2 separate regions of the Homo sapiens genome follow, and region 2 is linked to region 1. Evidence: fine-mapped expression QTL. Tissue or cell type: whole blood. Region 1 holds a variant in brackets; the other region holds the start of a gene. All regions are shown on one strand. Distances are from middle to middle.

Region 1 (8,101 bases):
GAAATAGTCTGTAACAACATGGAAAATTTGCAAAAGGTTCTCAGCTTGAGCTACAACCCAAAATGAAGTTGTGTGGTTATGCATGTGTGTATTATGTGCAATAAAAAACTAAAAAAGCAAGTTGTTAGGTATAAGGCATGATTTTTAAAAATCCTTAGTGACCAAAACACATTTTAAAGCATTTGACAGTTGCTTAAATTAAGGCATATTAACACGTACAGAAGATTGACCTGAAAGTGAGTTTTTTTAGTTCTACCAGTGTTTTTTTTTTTTTTTTTTTTTTTTCAGAAAAACATCTTGTGTTTGTGTATTTATTCACTTATGGAATACCCATTACGTGCCAAGAACTGTTTGGGTACAGAGAACAGGCTATAAGATACTCTGAGCCCTCCAAGAGCTCACAGGCCGGTGGCCGGGGGGAGGAAGAAAAAAGCAGGTAAGTAAATCTAAAGAACGTGATTATCCTCAGGCCTGGGAGAAATAGCAGATCATGTTGATATTAAAACCTAAGCATTCTAGCTTGCTAACTCACATGCTGATTTGGTGCATTCTTAAAGCTGGGCGTTTCCAGGGTTGCCTTACGATATTTTTACTGCTCCTCTTGGAACTTATACTCCCCAGTGCAACTGGCAACAACACAGATTATGCTCTGAATATAAAGATCAAATGCCCAGTCTGGATCTTCACAAGAGAGGGCGTCCCTTCTGGATGCCTCACTAGGACTCCAGCTCACTGTGGCATCGGGTCCTGTAGTTTACTGTAGCTCTGCAACATGCCACTCCATTCTGTCATTCTTGTCTTTTCTTCCTCACCTCCCCCAGCTTTTGTTCTCTTTGGCTCTTTTGAAAGCCACATTTATGTTCTTCGCATATGGGAAGTATTTTTGGTCAAAATTTAAAACCTGTAATGCGTTCCTTGGCAAAATGATTTGCTAAGCAAGTCTGGCTTTAACTTGAAAGAAAAGCTTTCAGTAGGCAACAAAACAAAAATCTCACAAACCACTCTGGCCACACTGCAATTCTTATTCATCAAAGCTAAATATACTTTACATGCATGTATTAAATAAAACCACCTTTCTCAGTGCAAGGAGGTGTGTATTGGAGTGATTAAAATTTTTATTACTGAGCCACACGTGGTTTCTAATAGAATTATATATAGACATTTATATTTTTTCCTAACACGGTGGCTTTATAGTAGGAACCAGAATGATTTTCTTAGGGATTAACCTCCTAGCTAGGAGGCAGAGAGAACCATGGAGAAACAATATTTGTAGAGTGCCTATTGTCTGAAAGGCATTGTGCTAAGGGCTTTATCCACAGTTCTTTCACTGAATCCTTACCACCAACCCTAGGAGGTAGGTAGCAGAATGATCCCACCACAGAGGGAAAGACTGAGGCTTAGACAGGTTAGCTATGTTGCCCAAGGTCTTTCAGCCCTTCTCCTTTCTATCAAGCTGCTCCTCACTGTTGAGATGCCAAAGGTGTCCTAGTGTTGCCATGTGTTTTTGCCTAATTTCTGTGTGTTTTCCTTTCTCTATAAAGCAGTGAAAACTCAGGTCAGGTTTGGTTTGGATACGAGTTTGCTTGAAAGAATGGCCAGCACCCGGAGCTTGGCAATCAACAACATGAGCACTGCAACTAAAGAGCAGGTGGTGGGCAGGATTCCTCTCCAGCTGTTACAGTGGGGTGATACCTAAAGTTTTGCATCCAGGCAGATCTGGATTTGAATCCTATCTCTGCTACCATCTGGTGACTCTGGGCAAAGTGTCTATCTTTTCTGAAACTCAATTTTCTCAACTATGTCTTTTCTGAAACTCAACTTTCTCAACTATAAGGTGGAGATAATGCTGCCTACCTCACAGTGCTGTAGGAGGATTGGAGAGGACATACAACAAGGACTTGGCAGATAGTTGGTAATTATTCATGCTTTTATGTCTGCCTTTTGTATCCACAGACAACCACCGCATTCACCAGGGTTTTGTGTGAGCAGGTCCAGGCCTGCCCGTTTCTCAGTGAGTGATAATCAGCTTTTGCAGCTGAAGCCTGTTTGACCATAGACCTGACATCTTGCTTAGATCCTGCAATACCCGACTCCTCTTCTGTAGTGATCCCCAATCCTCCTTTATCCCTAGTGCAACCTCTGGCTAGGATCTATGAATGCACTGGGCTTCCTTCTGCTTTTAGGCCAGCTAGATCAGACACGCACACCCACCTTCACTCGGGGCTATGCCTAAGGTCCCTATATCCTTTGGATACTGTAGAATGCTATTGCAGAGCTGACCTTCATAACTGGGGTGCTCACCCTTCTCCATGCTTACTACAGTTACTATTTTGAGCATCTTCTAGGAGCAGAGCCCTGTAATAACACAGGCATGGACCATGCAATTGAGCCGAGTGCTTTATATGCATTATCTCCTTTAGTCCTCATTATAATCCTGTAAAGTAGGTACTATTAACATATTCAGGCCAGGTGCGGTGGCTCACGCCTGTAATCCCAGCACTTTGGGAGGCCGAGGCGGGCGGATCACGAGGTCAGGAGATCGAGACCATCCTGGCTAACATGGTGAAACCCCCGTCTCTACTAAAAATACAAAAAATTAGCTGGGCGTGGTGGCGGGTGCCTGTAGTCCCAGCTACTCGGGAGGCTGAGGCAGGAGAATGGCGTGAACCTGGAAGGTGGAGCTTGCAGTGAGCAGAGATCAAGCCACTGCACTCCAACCTGGGCGAGAGCAAGACTTCGTCTCAAAAAAACAAAAACAAAAACAAAAACAAAAAAACCAACAACAACAACAACAAAAAAAACATATTCATATTCAATACCTATTCATTTCAAAATGAGGAAACTGAGACTTAGGAAGATTAAGGACCTTTCTCCAAGTCACCCATCTAGTAAGAGGTAAGACCAGGCCTAGGATCCCAGGCCAGGGCTCATAGCTGTTACACCATATTGTTTTTCATCCCACCTTCTCCTTCCTCCTTTTCTGACTGATGGGCTCCATGCAGCAGGTACTTTTTTTTTTGTAATTGTAGCATTTCTCATAATGTACTGTCATCAATCTATTTGTCTATGTCTCTCATTAAACAGGGAGGTTCCTGAAGGCAGGGGCCATGTCTTATTTATTCCTGTAGACCAGTGCTTACCACAACATGTGGCACAAAGTACTCCAGAGGATGTTTATTTACTGAATTATATTGGCTTTTTCTTCTCTACCTGCTGTCTTTTGCTGAAGTCTTAGCATGTCCTCTACCCACACTCATTTGAGCTATGACAGCTCTCAAATCAACGTTAGCAGTTACTCTTGGGTCTGAAATTATGTGTGGGTGTTGACATATTTATGTATGTATATGTATGTGTATGTCTGTGTGCGTTTGTGTGTCTGCTGTGGTATCAACTAAAACAGCTAGTTTTCCCAGTGCTTGTCTACATCAAAAGCTTTTAGCCATCAGGTTTCTTCAGTTTCCTTTAATCTGGAAACTTCCCACAGCCTTTCTTTGTCAGTATGACATAGATATTTTTGAAAAATATAGTCCATTAAAAAATAAAATGCTTCCCATGTTGCGTTTGTCTGATGTTTCCTTCTGATTAGATTCAGGCTCTGCATTAAAATGCTCTTTCTTTTCTCATATCTGGAGGCACACAATGTCCATTTGCCCATCTGAAGTTGATTTGGATCACCTAATCAAGATGTTGTCCTATTTCTTCCCTGTATACTTAACGTTCTTTTTCCTCTTGTAACTAATAAGCAAATTCTGAAGAGATATTTTAAGATTATGCATATATCCTGTTATTCTTCAAAATTCCCTCCTGGATCCATCGATGATTCCTGCCTATACCTGTCTTTAATATGATGATTGTGAAATTACAATTCTGCAAATAAATGTGGTATCTGACCCTAGACTAGATCCTGCACAGGAGGGGAAAATGCCATAAAAGACATCGACTATGCATTAGATGTCCTACCTAAAGTAATGTAAGTTTTTCATTTAATAGCTGACATTTAATTGATTAAAAAGTACAGGCCTGGCCGGGCGCAGTGGCTCATGCCTGTAATCTCAGCACTTTGGGAGGCCGAGGCGGAAAGATCACGAGGTCAGGAGATCGAGACCATCCTGGCTAACATGGTGAAACCCTGTCTCTACTAAAAATACAAAAAATTAGCCAGGCGCGGTGGCGGGCGCCTGTAGTCCCAGCTACTCAGGAGGCTGAGGCAGGAGAATGGTGTGAACCTGGGAGGCGGGGTTTGCAGTGAGCCGAGATCGCTCCACTGAACTCCAGCCTGGGCGATAGAGCGAGACTCCGTCTCAAAAAAAAAAAAAAAAAAGTACAGGCCTTCCCTGGATTGAATAGCCCCCAAGGTCTAGTCTCATGTGAGATCCTATGACCCTATGTGAAACTTCTGTTACTATAATGGAGACTGTATGGAAACTGAAACTAAATAATAGCGGTATTTTGAAATGAAGACTCTAATTCTGGTTGCACATGTTTGTTTTCTTTATTGAAAGACAATACAGAAATGATGAAACAATACCTCAAGGGTCTTGAACATGGATCAAATGACA[A/GAA]GTCTTTAATGCAATGGCACAGAAGCTTCTGGCATCAGCACCTGCAAGCCCTGTTCAGTCATCATTCATGATCGCCAAATACTCCTTCTGGTGTTCAACCAGCTTCAGGAATACTTGGTATTTCTTATCATAGTATCTGTGGGAGAAATATAAATATGTTGAATGATCTCAAGACAAAACTGCCACAGGGCTTCCCTGTACATTTAGAAGAATGGAAATATATGTGTGGTGGTGATGCTGACACCTAGATTCTGAATGCTTACAGCATCCTGGGCAATGAATTAGCATGTTTCAGACCTATTATATGTGACCTGGATGAAGTTTTATTATCTCCAATTTAGAAATAAGAACATTTAAACCCCATCTCTTAAAAATACAAAAATTAGCCAGACATGGTGGTGGACGCCTGTAATCCCAGCTACTCAGGAGGCTGAGGCAGGAGAATTGCTTGAACCCGGGGGGCGGAGGTTGCAGTGAACCGTCCCCCGTTCACTGTGAAGTGGTTGAGTTGCACCACTTCGCTCCAGCCTGGGTGAAAGAGCCAGACTCCATCAAAAAAAAAAAAAAAAAAATTCCTAAATGAGAGGCATATACAAAGTAGTATAGATAAAAACTGGCAGAGCTGGAATTCAAACTCATGTCTGTCTGACTTCAAAGCTTCTACTGTATATACAAAAAGGCCGGACTTAATGGAGACTCTTTCACATTGCCAGCTTCAATAAGTATTTCCTATATAACTAGCCCCAGGTTTGATGACTGGCCTAAAATCACAGCCTGACCAAGGACAAAGACTGAACATTTTAATTGCCCTTTTGCAGATTCCACATCTAGGTTTCCCTTGTGACCTGCTTTATCCAGGAGCAAAACCCCATGGAAATGTAGCTAATGCCTTTTCTAGAGCTGTGCTCGCCTTCCAGACATCTCACAGTGGCCGTTGCTCTCCCTGTCCTATCTGGCTGACTCTTTGGGTTAGACCTGTTAGAACTGGTATTGGCCATGAATCAGACAGCAGAACAGCTGAAGCTGCTCTGGCATCATAATCCTGAAAGGAATAATAGGAACCGAGACAAATTATACTTGCAGCCTTGCAACTTTGTCCTTACTCCTCTTGGTTGGGAAGCTGACATGGGGTGAGGGGGTGAAGAAGCCAGTTTAGCATGTCTTGCTCAATTCTGGGGTGCTCTGAAAAGGAGTCCTCATGATGAAATTTTGGTGCAAAGTTGTGCATTGGCAGAGAGAGGTTGTAAGAGTAACCTTGGATACACACAGGGACTTCTACTTGTCACACATAGCTATGTTAGTAGGAGTCCCCTACCCAATATTTATTAGACTGTAAGCATTCTGGTAACGTAGGAGTTGTGACGGGGCCAAGCACAGGGTTAAAAGGCGAACTCCAAAGCCTGGGTTGGAATCTTAATGTGGCCTAACATTAGCTGTGTGACTTTGGATATGTTACTTAAACTATTTCTGCCTAAATTTCTCCATCTGTAAATGGGGATAATTATGGGATCTACTTCAGCAGAGCTGTTGTAGATTAAATGTGGAAATAAATGAAAAGCATTTAGAACAGTACCTGACTCATAATAAGTGATATAAATGCTAGTTACTAAATTTTAGATAATTAATATTTTAATATCATCAATATAGCTATATGTAGGTACTACTAAGACCTACTCTATGAGCATCCAAATTTATTAGTTGTAGAATTATTTTAGGAACAATTTGCTCCTACTAATGATGCTCTGTGACAATATAACGGTAAGGAATTCTTTCACTACATGAGATAGATTTCTTGACTTTAGAATCTCAAAATATCTAGAAGGGAGCTAAGGTGAGCACCCCTTCACACACACTTGATTTACAATGTTAATACTGACAACTTTGCCACAACTTTGTGCACTGGCCTTATTCTTTACATAGGTGGAATCATGCAGTATTTGTCTTTTTGTGGTTATCTTATTTCACTTAGAATAATATCCTCAAGGTTCACTGATGTGTGGCATGTCAGAAATTGCTTCTTTCTAAGGCTGAATAATACTCCATTGTATGCACATATCATTCTTCATTTATATGTTCATCTACTAATGAACACTTAGGTTGCTCTCATGATTTTCGCTATCATGAATAATGTTGCTGTGAACATGAATGTAGAAATATCTCTTCCATACCCTACTTTCAGTTCTTTTGGGTATATACTCAGAAATACAATTCCTGAATCACATGTTAATTCTATTCTTAATTTCTTGAAGAATGGCCATAGTGTTTTCTGCAGCAGCGATACTATGTTACATTCTCACCAACTATGCACAGAGCTTCCAATTTCTCCACATCCTTGCCAACATTTGTTGTTTTCTGTTTTAAAATAGTAGCATCCTAATGTGTGAGGTGGTACCTCACGGTAGTTTTGATTTTCCTAATAGTGCTGTTGAATACCCTATCACGTGCTTACTGGTCATTTATAAATCTTCTTTGGGGAAATATTCATTCAAGTCCTTTGCCCACTTTTGAATTGGGTTGTTTTTGCTTTTTTGTTGTTGTTGAGTTTTAGGAGTTCTTTATACATTTATATATTCTGGATATCAATCCCTTACTGGATGTATGATAAGCAAATGTTTTCTCCCATTCTGTGAGTTGCCTTTTTACTCTGTTGATAGTGTCTTTCAATGCACCAAATTTCTCAAAGCACATTTAAGTGACTCTTCCAGAGCCACATATAAATTTGGACTGAACATAATAATGCAATTTGGGGTCATCCTAAACATTTATTATTAAACTATAGTCACTAAATTACACTCTCCGTGACTGTGAATTTTAAAATCAGCTGAATCCCCTCTCTTCAAAATGTGCCTCAACTCAGTCCCTGCTTCTGTGTGGCAGAGGCCTAAGTAAATGTCGTCCCACATCGTTAACAGTGTGATCTATTAGGCAATGAGATGAGGTTGGCTCAGAAGGAAACTGGCTTCTCCTGTCTCCTTGCAAATCTCTGGGTTGCCTGCAGATGGTGCTAAAGCACCGTGTGTGCCGCCTCCTTCGCAGAGAACAGCTGCCAGCTGCCAGCTCCCAGCAAGCAGCGGAGGACTCTCTGAACACGTGGGGTTTACGGAAAAAACTTAAAAACTTCCCTGAAAAGTCTTGGGAGGGTCAGGGAAGAGATGGAGAAAGACAATCTTTCTAATTTCACAAAAAGAGGGATGCTCCAGCTGCCTCCAGGGAACAGAAACAGGGACAGCAGCCCATAGCTCCTACTGCCAGTGGGAACTCAGATCTCTCCACCTTCCTGCATGGAGCTCCCCTACGCAATGCCTGTACCTTCCACCCTGGCCTTTAGAGAAGGGTTTATATTCGGAGGGTTAGCAGCCTGACTCTATGTGGAGTTAAAGGAAATGAAAAGAAAGTGGATTGCTTTTCCATGAACATTTCCAATTCTGTTAAATACTGATCCTGCTTCAGTGGGATCTGCACATTTGCCTGTTCATCATGTTAAGTGGAATTTGCTTTTAGGTCTTAACCTCGAATACTTCCCTAAAATTATAAAAGCACTT
Region 2 (8,101 bases), 470 kb after region 1:
GTGCGTGCCTGTAATCCCAGCTGCTCGGGAAGCTGAGGCAGGAGAATCGCTTGAACCTGGGAGGTGGAGGTTGCAGTGAGCCGAGATCACGCCACTTCACTCCAGCCTGGGCAACAAGAGCGAAACTCCATCTCAAAAAAAAAAAAAAAAAAAAAAAAGAATGATCACAACAGTTATAGGAAAAACAACAAAATTACAACTTCCATTATTCCTTTAAAAAAATTCTCAGTAAAGTAGGAATACAATGAAACTTCCTAAACCTAATAAAGCATATCTACAAAAGATATACAACTAGCATCATGCATCATACTTAATAATGAAAAAATGAATGCATCTCCCTCAGATCAGGAAGAAGGCAAGATGTCAGCTCTCATCAGTTCTATGCAAAGCAATGGTTCTGGCTAGTGGAATACAGCAAGAAAAATAAAAGGCAATCTCATCGGAAAGGAAGTAAAACTATCTTTATTTACAGATGACAGGATCACCTAAATAGAAAATCTGATGGCATCTACAAAAATGCTCTTAGAAATAATAAGCACATGAGCAAGATTTCAGGATACACAATCAATATACCAGTAACAAGAAAACAACTGGAAAATAAATTTTTAAAATACATAAAATTTTAATATCATTTACAATATCATCAAAAAATAGGAAATACCTACAGATAATCCAACAAAGATGTGTAAGACCTACATATTGAGAGCTACAAAACATTGCCTAGAGAAATAAGGAAGACTTAAATAAATGAACAGATATACTGTGTCCACGGGTCAGAAGACTTGGTATTTCAAATGTCAATTCTCCCCCCAAATTAATGTATACATTCAATACAATTCCAGTTAAAATCTAAATAGGCCTTATTTTGAAATGGACAAAGTGATTATAAAATTCATATGGAAATAGAACCTAGAATAATCAAAACAAATTTTAAAAAGAACAAAATTAAAGGACTTATACTACCTGATTTCAGTACTTATTACAAAGCTGTATTTATAAGACTATGTGGTGTTCGCATTAAAATAGACAAGAGATCAACTGAACAAAATAAAACACAAAATTGGGCCAATGTATACATGGTAAATTGATTTTTGAACAAAGGTGCAAAGGCAATTCAATGAAGATAGGCTTTTCAGCAAACAGTGCTGGAACTGGATAGCCATATGCAAAAAAAAAACTTGATTCCATATTTCATGTCCTATACAAAAATTACCTTAAAATGATCACAGATTTAATATAAAACCAAAAATGACAAAACTTCTTTTAAAAATAGGAAGAATATTTGAGACCTTAGGTTAAGCAAAGATATCTTAGATAAAACACAAAAAGCATGATCCATTATAATTCAGATTGGTAACATTTATTTAACCAAATTATAAATTAGACTTCATCAAAATTAAGAACTCTGCTTTCAAAAGACACTGTTGAGACAAGCATCAAAATAAGAAAATATCTGCAAGTTACACGTGATAAAGAACTTATGATAAGAATAAAGAATTCTCAAAGCTCAATAAAAAGAAAATAAAAGGCTCATTTTTTAAAATGGACGAAAGATTGAATACATACTTTACCTTAGGGGGTATACAAAGAGGAATTAAAAAGGGCACAAGCAATCTTTGGGGTTATTAGGTATGTTCTTTTGATGGTCATGATGGTTTTCATAGATATATGCATATAACAAAACTTCTCCAATTAGACACTCTCAATACGTAGTTTACTGGATGTCAGTTATTCCTCACTAAAGCTGCTACAAAATAGCCCACTCAAGAACACCTACTGATGACTACATTCCTTCTTATCCCTACATTCAGTCAGTAATTAATTTCCATTAGATATGAGCTCTAAATTTCTCTTCAAAGAATCAATATGTCAGTATGTTCAATTCTTTTCTACTTTTAAATTTAACGTCCTCATAAAGCAAGCTTTTTCGATCACCTGCTCCACCCAGACTCACTGACTCATTCCGATTACCTGCTCATTCTCCACCCTGACTCATTCCGATTTCCTGCTCTGCCATAACCATTTTTCCCGCCAAACCACTCACATCGTCACTCTCTTTAAATTAGCCAATTGGAATTAGTTTAGCCTGTGCAGTCTAACCCTAGCCAATAGGGGAACGACACAGCAACAGGGGCCACGTGCGTCAGGCATAAGACCCGCCCCCCCACCCTTGTCCAGGTGTGCGCTCACCATTGCTCCATCTGTGAGGGCGCACCCTTCTATAGAAGTAAATGGCCTTGCTGAGAAGAAAAAAGAAAATTTGATATTCAAGTGCTATTTCTTTTGTGGCACTGAACCTTTATAACATTCCTAACCATTCTATTTTCCTAATCTCTCTCCACTCCCATAACTATTACCCTAACACGTCTCTCACCTATATTACTACAATTACCTCTCTCCGGGCTTCGCCAATCCAATTCATTCTCCAAACTGCAGCCAGAATTAATTTTCTATAACATAAACCTGAGAGTATGTATCACTGTTTGCCCTGGAGATATATTTCAAACTCCCCTAAGATGATTCACCAGACCCTTCCTGACCTGGCCTTCACCCTCCCCAGCCTCCTGTCAGGTGATTTTTTCCAACTTATCCTTTCCTGCACAGCCATCCTAATCAACCATGTGCCATGCTTGTGTAGTTCTGCACATGCTGTTCCCGGTTCATATAATCCCTCGCTCTTTCTCCAGCCCACTCATACTTAGGCTTTGGAACTCGGCTCCAGTATTCCCTTCTGGGAAGTCCTCCCCAAATGGCTTCCCCATGTTGAGCCATTTGCCCTTCTCTCAACTCCTGGGAGTCTTCGGCATACCTTTTCAATGTACTCATCTCACTATCACATAATCTCCCTCATCAAAGTGGATTGAAGCAAACTGGATGAAAGCTTGAAAGCAGAGACCAAGTCTTACTCATCTGCACTTTCCCAGAGACTACCACAGTTCTGGGCCCAAAGTATGTGGACAAGATGAGTGAACAAATGAATACATGAAGAACTGATTTGGATGATCTCTGACACCACCTGGGTTGATTCTATGTCCCTCCATTATAAAAAGGTGGGCGGGTGAGAAGGTAAGTGATCTCTGTAGCACGTTCTGGTAAAATAATCATTTCAAATCCCCCTGGGGGTGGAGGTAGGGGGTTCCACTCTGGCTAGGAGATTAAGGGCAAGATTCATTACCTCAAATTATTTTAAAAACCAGCTGGTAATTGACTGTGATTTAAACTATTTAAATCAATAAGTGAAAGGTTAGGTAAAGGGAACTATTTAAACTAATAAGTGAAAGGTTAGGGAAAGGGAACCAAATTCCAGGAAAAGCCAAGGCCCACAACAAAAACTAACACAGCCTGGAAGGCCCAGCCTCCTCCCAGTAAACTTATTAATTTTATCCAGAAAGACATGGCTCTCCACCCTCTGGGGTTATGCCCTTCTCCCAGCACACATGTTTTGACTTCCAAATCCAGCCAGGCAGGCTCCCAACCTCCCTCCCCCTCAAAATTGATCTCCAGGCCCAGCTGACCCCCTCTGATCTGTTCCCCCAATCATCCTTAATAACAGTGCTCTGGGCCTCCCACTAGGAGGTCCTCCAAGAGCCAGGCCAGTGGCCATCAGGTCAAGAGCCAAGCATGAGGGCCCCATTAACAGGAGACTCCCAGAAGACCAAGCGGCAGTCATCTGGCTGGAAAATCCAGCAAGCAAGTTAAAAAGGAAAAAAATCAGGACATACACGTGGTGGATCATAGAAAAAAAAGAGGAAAAGCAAGCAAAAACTATACAAAGCAAAACTCTACCATTTAAATAACAGCCACAAAATAAAAGACTTTCCCTTCTTTCATTCTGATTTACAAGTCAAAAGAATAAGCACCTCACCCCTCCTGGTCTCATACTTTAAAATTTAACCTAAGGATTAACTGCTTTTCAGACTTTGGTCATGTCATGACTGACTCTTCGGGGAAGAAATTTGTGTTAAGACACAGAAGTGCTTTAGTGGAAAACAGCCCATGATGAGGGAAATTCACCATTTTGCACCTTGTCAATTTTTTTTTTTTTTTTCTGAGACGCTCTGTCCCCCAGGCTGGAGTGCAGTGGCACGATCTCAGCTCACTGCAAGCTCCGCCTCCTGGGTTCACGCTATTCTCCTGCCTCAGCCTCCCGAGAAGCTGGGACTGCAGGCGCCCGCCACCACGCCCGGCTAATTTTTTGTATTTTTAGTAGAGACGGGGGTTTCACCGTGTTAGCCTGGATGGTCTCGATCTCCTGACCTCGTGATCCACCCGCCTTGGCCTCCCAAAGTGCTGGGATTACAGGCGTGAGCCACCGCGCCCGGCCCCTTGTCAATCTTTAAATAAAAAGGAAACGGCTAAAAATGAAAAGATATCCCTAGGCCTTTCTACTCAGGATAACTGTAACCAAACAGCATTATCTCATCTAAACTCAGCTGTGCCTCAAACATTATCACAAGTGCTGGAAGCGTTTAAATCTACAAGCAACACTAGCCTAAAAATGCCTTCGGTAGCCAGACGTGAATTAAAGGCTCCTCAAATGCCAGGAAAATGTCCTACAAGGGTAAGGGGAGGAGAGAAAGAGTACTGAATACAGATAAGTGGGCACTGATCGGAGAGGAAGCAGCACGGGTTCCAGACACCTAATAGGCAGCCTTGGGGATGCAGTCAAGGCCGACCCTTCCCTTCCCTTCCCTTAAGTGGCCGGACGCCTCACCCAGAAGAGGACACAGGGGACTCAACAACGTCTCGGGAACAACGGCCCGGCGGGTGTGAGACTAAGCGGCCAGGAGGAGGAAGGGGAGGAGGAGGCAGGGGAGGAGGAGGCAACGACTGCGGGAAAGGGGAAGGAAGGGCCGGGCCGGGTTGGAGAAGCCTCTTTCTGGGCGTGCGCGCTAAGAGCCTGCGCACCAGCAAAAGCCCCCAGCGCCCACGTGGGACTGAGAGGAGGGTCACTTACAGTACTTGTCCAATCTGAAATTACATTTTAGCTAGACGGATTCTGCACGTAGCCGCGCCGAACCCCACGGCGCCTGAGCAGGGCGGTCCCGGGGCGGCTACAGCCCCGCCTTGCGCGCGATCCCGCCCCCGCCGGCGCGGCCCCTGTAAAGCGCGGCCCCTGTAAAGCGCGGCCCCTGTAAAGCGCGGCCCCTGTAAAGCGCGGCCCCTGTAAAGCGCGGCCCCTGTAAAGCGCGGCCCCTGTAAAGCGCGGCCCCTGTAAAGCGCGGCCTGATTGGCCCTTTGAACCGGGCGTGGGATTGGCCGTCGCCTGCCCACCCCGCGGCTGCAGCGTTCCCTGGGGCCTAGCCAACCGCGGGCAGGGCTGGGCAAGGCGGGAGGAGCGCGGACCCAAGATCGGCTACGCTGCGTCTGCTCAGGCTGCGAGTTCCCGGCTCTGGGGACTCACCTTGCGGAGCTTACCCAGGCGGACTCTCCGCAGCCCCTGATGGGTGTGTGTGTCAGACCGTTTACTAAACACCAGGACTGTTGTAGGCGACTGTAAGAAATAAGAATATTGCATGGTTACAATTCTTGAATGCTTACCTTGTGTCTTGTTCCTTACTCTACAGAAATTTTCTAATCCCGTGGCGAACCCCCGTACTTCAACGTATGACATTCTGTAAATCTACAAAACAGATGGGTCCCTGCCTTTGAGAAGTTTTTACAATTTAGTGGGTACTGGACACGGACCTAATTTAATTCTCACATGCCTTCCCTTTCTAATAAGCTGCATGTTATGTATCCCTATTCTACAGATGTGGGGAATCCGAAATTTTTAGCTTTTACTGGGACACACAGCTAGCAAGCAACTAAAGCGAGAATTCCAACCTGAGCTCCAATCCGAACTATTTTCATAAAAGGCAGGATCCCAGGCTGAGGGAGTTCGAGGTTTGGGAGACAGTTTAGCAGTCGCTGAGTCCAAACATGTTGTTTTCCTAGAAAAGAAAACTGAGATCCAGGAAAGGGAAGTGATTTTCCAAAGACACACCTGTGAAAGGTAATAATTTCACTGAACGGATCTTAAGTGGCAGGTGCACTAAGATTGTCTGCTATCTTCACAACAACCCCGAAGTAAATAAGTGCTCTTATCTTGGTCTTACAGGTGAGGAGAACAGCCCAGTGAGGCTGAGGCCACACAATTAACCCCAGTCTTTGCACTACAACTCTACCAGGGATCCTGGTTTGGCTCATTTTCTTTCTTCTGCACCATGATTGTTCACCTTTTCATTACCAGCAACATACCCAAAGACCTAGCTATAGACTCGTTGGAATCTGTTACTTAGCAGCTGTGTGAATCAAGTGTTCAATAGGAATAATAAGATGTATTCATCTTACCTTTTCAGAACATTATGAAGAACAAATGTGGTAAGACATATGAAAATGCTTTGTAAAGTGTTAGATGCTTAATACACAGAAGACATTGCTTCCAGATCTGTTTCAACGTACCCCAAGAATGGAATAAGTGGAATATGCTGGTTTCATGCACTGTGGCAAGGGGGTCTCATCTTGGCTAGACTTGAATAAGTGGATTTGTTGCCTGGCCTCTGTGGATGGCTCTTTCTCTGGGCTTTTGTGTATTTGATTTTTTATTTGCTCCAGCAGCCGTGTTGAACCATGAAAGGACCTCAGGAATGAAACCCACACACAGCAAAGCAACAAAGTGAAAGAAGCGTGGATTCCTAATGCAGGAGGCACTGAACCAATCAATACCCACTGCCCTCCAGACCTCCACATGAAAGAAAAAAACTGCTGTCCTGTGTAAGACACTTTTATTTTGTGTTTCTATTGTATGAGGTCAAACCTAATAACAGATATATTACACTCTAACAGATACATTACATTGTATAGTAGAATTCTCAGACAGCAACCTTATAAGGTGATAGATGCAGAAACAGGCCCAAAGAGTAAAAATAATTTGTTCAGAGTTTTCCAGCCAAGTGGCGAAGGTGAGATTCTTACCTGGGTTTGTCTGAAACCAATTTTCACTATCTTTTTCAGTTATGATACACTGCCTATTACGAATGAATGAATCCTTTTTTTTTTTTCCATTTACTTCCATTTGATTCATTTATTCCAGGGAGTGACACTTTTTCTGTAAAGGACCGATAGTAAATATTTTAGACTTTGTGAGCAATACAGTCTCTGTTGCAACTACTCAACTTTGTAATGTAAAAGCAGCCATAGACAATAGTAAATGAGTAGGTATGACTATGTTTCAATAAAACTTTACTTACACAAGCAGGCAATGGACAATGTGGCCCATGAGCCTTAGTTTGCCAACCCCTAATGAAATGGGAAAAGTTCCCTTGTCCCCTTCACAGGGCGTGCGATGTGGGTGTGACTCACTTCTTCAGTCCCCACTGCACAAACCTCTAGGGAAGCATACAGACAGGTAGGCTGTGGAGATCTGACCCCACGGCAGTGTCTAGGGGTGACTGTTTACAGCCAAAGCCCCAGTGGGCACATGTAGCAGGGTGCTCTTTTAGTTTAGCCGTCCGTGGGTGGCTTGTGTTAGCCAGCTCAATTAAACCCCTGCCTTATTGCAAGGACAGAGGGCTTTCTGTATCTCGGGGTTCTTGCCTTGGTGTAGCAGAAGAATTGGATCACACGTGGGCTTGGAGAATGATTGCAAGGTTTTATGGAGTGAAAGTAGCTCTCAGCAGGTGGAGGAGCCAAAAGGGAGATGGTTTTCCCCTGGTGTCGGGCCGCTTGGCGGCCCAGGCTCTCCTCCCACTGCCCCAGCCAAACTCCATGTCATTCTGCCAGTTGGTGGCCTGCTGGCGTAAGTGTGTTCTCTCAACGTCCAGCTGCCCGCGTGTTCCTCCGCTGATGTGCTCCTCTCGACGTCCAGCCGCCTGTTTGTCTACCTGCTAGGGTCTCATGGTTTTTATAGCACAGGATGGGGGTGTGGCAGGCCAGGGTTGTCTTGGGAAATGCAATATTTGGGCAGGAAAACAAAATTATGCCTGTCCTCACCTAGGTCCTTGGGCACACATACGCATGTCCCTGCCCCCTTCCCTATCATTTAAAGGGACACACCCTTCACTTCCCAGCACTTCTGTATCACTAATTTATTGTATTCTGATGTTCCATCACAAAAGTG

Evidence for each region. PIP is the estimated chance that this variant, and not a neighbour inherited with it, causes the effect.
Region 2: it holds the start of FGGY, and the variant in region 1 is fine-mapped to the expression of FGGY in whole blood (TOPMed, PIP above 0.99). The same link has a PIP of 0.9 or more in adrenal gland, amygdala, blood mononuclear cells, esophagus mucosa, lung and nasal epithelium.

What each region holds. Positions count from the first base shown.
Region 1 is chr1:59,759,097-59,767,197 of GRCh38, reverse strand. FGGY (FGGY carbohydrate kinase domain containing) reads right to left here. Exons shown (of 16, transcript NM_018291.5): 16 at 4,468-4,695. The coding sequence ends at 4,614. Among named protein-coding and RNA genes, the nearest start is that of MIR4711, 30 kb to the right of the region's middle. RefSeq lists an enhancer at 4,396-4,445. The variant A/GAA (reference allele first, on the strand shown) is at 4,560.
Region 2 is chr1:59,293,764-59,301,864 of GRCh38, reverse strand. FGGY (FGGY carbohydrate kinase domain containing) reads right to left here and starts at 4,771. Exons shown (of 16, transcript NM_018291.5): 1 at 4,715-4,771. FGGY-DT (FGGY divergent transcript) reads left to right here and starts at 5,315. Exons shown (of 2, transcript XR_001738089.2): 1 at 5,315-5,496; 2 at 6,101-8,101. RefSeq lists an enhancer at 2,113-3,312 and silencers at 4,730-4,819, 4,830-5,369.